Linked DNA regions of Homo sapiens. The protein of the gene in region 1 purifies or fractionates together with the protein of each later gene. This does not show direct contact. Each region holds a gene or a part of one and is shown in the gene's direction. Other genes may lie near its edges.

The links.
Region 2: the proteins of PPY (region 1) and DPY19L3 purify together in Homo sapiens (affinity purification with mass spectrometry; one large-scale study listed by BioGRID and IntAct). This does not show direct contact.

The regions. Positions count from the first base shown.
Region 1 is NC_000017.11:43,940,304-43,943,629, reverse strand, and holds PPY (pancreatic polypeptide prohormone isoform 1 preproprotein), read left to right. Parts: upstream 1-1,153; 5' UTR 1,154-1,209; intron 1,210-1,355; exon of another isoform or gene 1,356-1,425; coding exon of another isoform or gene 1,426-1,443; intron 1,444-1,975; coding exon 1,976-2,166; intron 2,167-2,415; coding exon 2,416-2,487; intron 2,488-2,677; coding exon 2,678-2,702; 3' UTR 2,703-2,826; downstream 2,827-3,326.
Region 2 is NC_000019.10:32,478,770-32,482,269, forward strand, and holds part of DPY19L3 (protein C-mannosyl-transferase DPY19L3), read left to right. Parts: intron 1-1,629; coding exon 1,630-1,788; intron 1,789-3,309; coding exon 3,310-3,471; 3' UTR 3,472-3,500. UniProt on the Homo sapiens protein: C-mannosyltransferase that mediates C-mannosylation of tryptophan residues on target proteins.

The DNA.
Region 1 (3,326 bases):
TGTCACCGTGTCATTCAGACACAGCCAGTTACCACTCCTTGGCCTAAGCAGGGGAGGGAGACTGGGGGTTGGGAAGAGACGCTGGGCAGGGGAGACTCAGGGGCTTCTGGTGGGGATGGATTAGTGGGGTTGAGAATCTAAGCCAGAATTCGGAACCTCGGTAGCTATGAGATCTTGAGCAAGCGTCTTTACCTCTGTGAGCCTCAGGTTTCTCAGCCAAAAAGTGGGAAATTATAACAATACTTTGACGGCCCCACTTAGGAAAAAAAACAGTCCAGGTTTGGAGTTAAATTTTGGGGTCTGACTGGCTGTGGGGTTTGGGGCCAGTGATTTGACATCTCTGAGCAGATTTCAGATCCTGAATCTGTAAAATGGGTTGTTGTGGGGATTTAGTGAGGTGACTGAGCTGGCAGCACTTTGGAAAATGTGAGGCTTTACAAATGAAGCTGGTTTTTAGCACTTCCCTGGAATGGGGGCTCTGAGATGGGGAGGGAAATGGATACTGGAAACCGGCACCCCCCTCAACATTTCCCCTGAACCCAGGCACATGAGTTCTCATTCTGCATCCTATGCACCCACCAAATGGGTTTCTCCAAGCCTGGCACCCCACTCCTTTCCACCTTGCCTGAGGACCTGAGGCCCCTTCCCTCTTCCCACCTTGTTCTAGTTGCAAGCTGCAGAGGATGGCCTGAGTTTCCATTCTTCAGCCTGGAGGCTCTGGCTGTAGCCTCAGTCTTCCAGCTGCAGCCTCAATCTTCTGCCCCAAGAGAATCCGTTGGATGATTTGGGTTGATCTTTGGGAGGCAGGAGAGCTAGTTCCAAGGCCTGTGACCAAAACCTTTCAGTCACTCTCGAGTCCCAGAACCCCATCTTTCTTGAACCAAGCCTGCTCTGGTGCCCAAAGGGAAGGGGTGTCAGTGATGGGGGCCCACAGGAGACTTTTACTGTGGTCCAGTTTTATCTGTTATGCTGCTGGTCTGGCACCCACAGAACTGCCCTGTCCCCCTCCCGTCTCTGGCCTCAGTACTGGCGTTGCCAGTATGAGGAGACAGTGAGAGGAGGGGTGAGGGCTTCGGAGTGAGAGAGGCTGACAGGAGGCGGGGACTCTGGGGGGCTGAGGACTATAAAGCGGCCCAGCCGAGGGCAGGGGCCCATCCGGCCTGAGGCAGGTGCTCGCTTGGTCTAGTGCCCATTTACTCTGGACTCCGGGTAAGTGGGCTCAGCCTGCCTGGGGCTCTGGGGGCCTCCCCCAGGCTGGGGCCTGGGATGGAGAGGAGGTGGTGCTTTGCAGGGCCAGGGGCCTTGGGAGGCCTAAGGTCCTGCTTGGGTCTTGCTTTCTGCATCTGGACAGACCTGTCACGCTAGAAGAGCCGTCTGCTGACTGCACGTGTGTGTGCACACTCGTGTGCATGGCTGTGAACTGGAATGTGTGACTGTGACCTTGTGAGTGACTGGGGTCCCTGTGTGAGTGCCTTTGCTGGTCTGTGCAGGACGACATGGACAGTAGCGTCTTCTCCAGGACCGATATCTGTGTCTCTATCGCAGGGTGGAGGGCCAGACCCACAAGGCCATGGATTTCTGTCCTTGGCTTCCCGAGTTCATTCTGTGTCCCCCACCCTGTGGGTGACCTGGCATGCCCTTATTCCCACTAGCTGCTGCCTCCTGGGAGCCATGAGGCCCTGGATGTCATGAGTCCCGTGTCTCCAGGACTCACATCCCCATTTTCTCTGCTATACTTTTCTAACTTGCGAGGCCCTGGCTTGCTGGGCTGCTCACAGGACAGGCTGTCCGTGCCTTCAGAGCAGTGTCTAGGAGGTGGAGTGGCCAGCTTGGAGTGGCCCTTTGCTCTGCCCCCTTGTCCCCAGGCTTGGAGAAATGGATGATGGGCTAAGGGGCTGGATAGTTGGGCCCTGCTTCCTGGGCACGGGAAAATCTGCAGCCCGGGCTCTCCACCTCCCCTCTGCTTGCTCCTCAGATGGCTGCCGCACGCCTCTGCCTCTCCCTGCTGCTCCTGTCCACCTGCGTGGCTCTGTTACTACAGCCACTGCTGGGTGCCCAGGGAGCCCCACTGGAGCCAGTGTACCCAGGGGACAATGCCACACCAGAGCAGATGGCCCAGTATGCAGCTGATCTCCGTAGATACATCAACATGCTGACCAGGCCTAGGTGTGTGCCACAGTTGGGGAGAGAGATCCCAGCCCCTGGGACCCTGGGCCCACTCCACATTCCTGGCCACACCCTATCCCCAGCCCCAGCCCCAGCCCCTTCCAGGCCTGCTCTTGGGAAAACAGGGCATCTGTGCTCAACAGGCCTAGACCAATGTGCCCTGGGCAAGATGGTGCCTACAGGCAGATATGAAACAGGTGGGCTGGCACCTGGGCACAGTGCTTGCCCCTGCTGCCTCTTCCCTCCCAGGTATGGGAAAAGACACAAAGAGGACACGCTGGCCTTCTCGGAGTGGGGGTCCCCGCATGCTGCTGTCCCCAGGTGAGTTTGACTCCCTGCCCTGTCTGTCCAGCTCCCTGGAGCTGAAATGGGGGTGGTGGGACTGAATCAGGGCTTGGAAAGGTGTAGTGGGGGGTGGAAGAGGGAGAACAGGAGCCCAGGGCCAGCCTGAGGCCTCCTGAGGGCACGAGGCCTACCCCCTACACTGCCATGTTCTGCCCTGTCCTCACAGGGAGCTCAGCCCGCTGGACTTATAATGCCACCTTCTGTCTCCTACGACTCCATGAGCAGCGCCAGCCCAGCTCTCCCCTCTGCACCCTTGGCTCTGGCCAAAGCTTGCTCCCTGCTCCCACACAGGCTCAATAAAGCAAGTCAAAGCCACAGCCTGTCCTGTGTCTCTGTGGACCCCTGGTGGGGGCAGCAGGAAGTGCCAAATGCATGGGAGAGAAAGGGGAGGGCAGGGCAGGGCAGAGGAAAAGGGGATCATCCAGAACGTTGGCGGGGGTCATCAGAGTCACTCAACTCATCCTCTCCCCTTCGCAGAGGGAAAAGTGGTGGCCAGAGGAAGGCAGGGACTCCTCTGAGCAGATGGTCCTTCAGCAAGTCTGTGAAGTGGCAGTCTTGAATCTTCCCAGTTCAGTACCCATAGACCTTCCCGACACAGCCTGATGACAACCCTTCCCCAAGTGCACCCCTCACCAGTGCCTTACTGCAGCCTAGGCAGCAGAAGCACCAAAATTTATACGAAAGCACCCTTGGCATGGGGGCAGGGGCACAGCCCAGCCTGGAAGAACGATTCTGGTGCTATGGCAGTCATGGCTGCATCCAGGGGCCTGAGCTGCCGTCCAGAAATTTGGAGAGAATGGGCTGCCCTGAGAGGT
Region 2 (3,500 bases), on another chromosome or scaffold:
TGTGGCATATTTTATTTAGCCATTTCTGCTGTTTCCCTGTCTTTTGTGATTATATGAACAATGCTGCAGATAAACTTGTCTGCACATCACTCTTTCCAGGCACGGTGTCTGTCTGTACAGCAGATTCTTGGATGGGGAAGTGCTGGGTCAGGGTTGTTGACATCTGTAGTGTAGATCGAGAGATGTTATCAAGTCCTCTCTCTACAGGTTGTATCTGTTTACATTCAAGTCAGCAGTGCAGGAAGGTGCCTGTGTTCCTTCATCCTCACCAGTCAGGTTTCAAACTCATAAATGTTTCCTAATGTCACTTTTTTCATGTTGGCGGTTGAAAAGTTGTTGAAAAAGTCTTGTTTTGAGGTGAGATTTGACTAGCCTAAAAGCAGATGATTTTTACTAATCTCCTGTCTTGTATAAGAATCATTTGAATTCAGACTCCTGCTAAAATAGGAATTTTTTGATGGGCTGAAGTGTTCCAGATAGTTCCAAATTAACTAGGAGGATGCAGGAAAGGGGCTCCCTGGCTTTCCAGGCACCAGGTTCATCAGGGGTGGCCTCTACTGCTTGGACTGGAGACTGCAGAAAAGACAGGTCGAGTGCACAGAACGTCCTGGGCATCTCCTTTCCTGTCTCAGTACTAGGGTTAGGCCCCACACACTGACATCCTCAAGGCCCTACGGCTCTTCATCAGGACCCTGGAACCCTTGGAATGCCTTCAGCCTGAGACCTTGTGCTGGACTGTAGGACAACACAGTTGTCACAGTAACAGCATCCTACCTCCCTACCATTTCACCCATCCATGTGGACACATCAAGTTAGACCCTCAAGCCCAAATCAGAAATCTAGCACTCGAAATCAGGGTGCAACAAAGGAGGCAGTGCCTCTCTTCATGAACCCCCACATTCAACACCTCACACAGCCTGTTTCCATTCCAGCCCCAGAATCTGGGACGCTCAGTTTGCATCCATCCACTGAGGGTGTGTGGCACTGGTATGAACGTGAAGGGGGCCTCCTGTGGCGTTGCCCACGGTGTGCTGCAAGTGGCTCTCACCCCTAGGATGGACGAGAGGGAGAGGAGCAGTGGGGTCTCTCAATTAGCTGAGATGCGGAGTAGCAGGTAAAGCAGCCAATGCTGCCCCAGCCTAGGAGCAGAGACCCTACAGGGATCCTTCTCCCCACCTACCAGTTTCAGAAGCTGGGGCTCTGCCTTATTGGGACGTGTGTCCCTCAGACTGTCCCATCACCCTTAATGGGCCATTTTAGTCTGGGGGTCCCCTTTTTAAAGGTAGAGACTGTGTCTTATTTACTCAGCCCTGTCATTTACCTTGGGAAAGCAGTCTTAGAATTGGTGCCTACTGATGAATATAGTCCTGACTTGAAGTAATACATTCTGAATCCAGATGTGTTCTTCCTGGCTCACTCTCTTCCCAAGGCCGAGCACTCACAGCGTTCTGGGAACTTCCACGCACACACTCCAGGCCTGCAAATGAGCGAGTGCAGCGTGGCCTGGGCTGGAGAGAGCACCTTGGGTGTTAGGTCTTAGACTCAGCCCTGTGGAAGGTTACATCACATAGTTAACTCCCTGGCAGTCAAGTAGCATTTGCCACATTGCATTTTTATGTCTTTTTGAAGGTTTATCAGATATATGCCAAGAGGGCACCAGAGGAAGTGCATGCCCTCCTAAGGTCCTTCGGCACTGACTACGTAATCCTGGAAGACAGCATCTGCTACGAGCGGAGGCACCGCCGGGGCTGCCGACTCCGGGACCTGCTGGACATTGCCAACGGCCACGTGAGCATGCTGCCTCTCCCTGTGTGGGGGTCTCCTGGAGGGGCGGGACTCTGATTTGAATCCTAAGAATGTGAATCTTTTTATCCTTAATGTCTAGTTGAATTACGCTACGAATCAAGTATTTGCTTTTTCTCTTGCTTCCTACAGAAGCCCTCTCTTGGCACTTTAGTGACTGCCACCGGGGCTGGGCAAGGGAGAGGTGAGAGGGGAGCCCTGGGTCCCCAGTGTCACACCAAACAGAGCAGCTCTGCCTTCAGCTCATTTGTATGATGGGGCTCTGCATAAAATGTATCTGTGAAGGATTTTGCTGCTATAAACAAAACCTCAGCCTTTAAACCCACTGCTCCAACGCTTCGTATTGGCTAGCTGCTGCATGGCAGGGATGGTGGGGCCCTCCTGCCCTCCGGTCTAGGTGGTGGATTCCCCCTACCCCTCCTGCCCTCTCCTACTGAGTGTCCTGTGTCCACTGGTGTGTTTCCACAGGCCGGCTTTCAGAGGCTAAGTTGCACTCCAGAGCAGAAAAGCAGCAAGCCGCTTCTCCCTTCTCCCTTCTGAGGAAAGTGTTCTTGGAGCTATGCCAGGTCTCAGTAGAGCAAACAGATTTTCACCCTTTAGAGGTGTGATGTGTGCTGTAATTAATGGTATGAAAGCCAATAGATATTTGTAAACAAGTTGGACAAAGTGACAAACCTAGCCTAAATTTGAAAAAAAAAAATCTTGACTGTACAGAATTTGAGATTCAGATTTTTGCCCGAGGAGAATCATAGTTCATAACTGTCTTGAGTTCAGAGGTGGTACAGACCAGAGACATCCATTTAAATTTTGATTTGAGCGTGACTTTTTCAGTTATTTATTTATTTATTTATTTATTTTTAGAGACAGGGTCTCACTCTGTCACTCAGACTGGAATGCAGTGGCGTGATCTTGGCTTACTGCAGCCTCAACCTTCCAGGCTCAAGTGATCCTCCCACTTCAGCCTCCCAAGTAGCTGGGACCACAGGCATACATCACCATACCCAGCTAATTTTGTTTATTTTTTGTAAAGATGGAGTCTGGCTATGTTGCCCAGATGAGTCTCAGACTCCTGATCCAAGCGATCCTCCTGCCTCAGCCTCCCAAAGTGCTGGGATTTCAGGCATGAGCCACCACGCCTGGCCTAAATGTGACTTTTTCTGATGAGTTAGAGAGCTTTCTCTGATCACTGTAGTTCTCTGTATTTCATTTCTATGAGAGAGACAGTATAGTATGTTCCTGAGAGCAAGCAGACCTGAGTTCTAGTTCTGGCTTTCCCGTTAATGGGATCATCGTGTGACGCTGCACTCTCCTTCTCAGCCTTGGTCTGCACTTCTGAAGGGGGAAAAGGATGGCCCTGATGATCTCCAGGTGCCCATGGACATTGAAATAATATAATTTAATTTCACTCACATACCATTCTTAAACCCAATACCCATTCCTGCTCCTACTGTCTTTTGTAAATAGAATTTTCCCCCCAAATTGTATTTGGGTTTGTTTTGGTTTTAGATGATGGATGGCCCAGGAGAGAATGATCCTGATTTGAAACCTGCAGACCACCCTCGCTTCTGTGAAGAGATCAAAAGAAACCTGCCTCCCTACGTGGCCTACTTCACCAGAGTGTTCCAGAACAAAACCTTCCACGTTTACAAGCTGTCCAGAAACAAGTAGCGCAGATTTCTGCCCAGTGTCTATTTTTG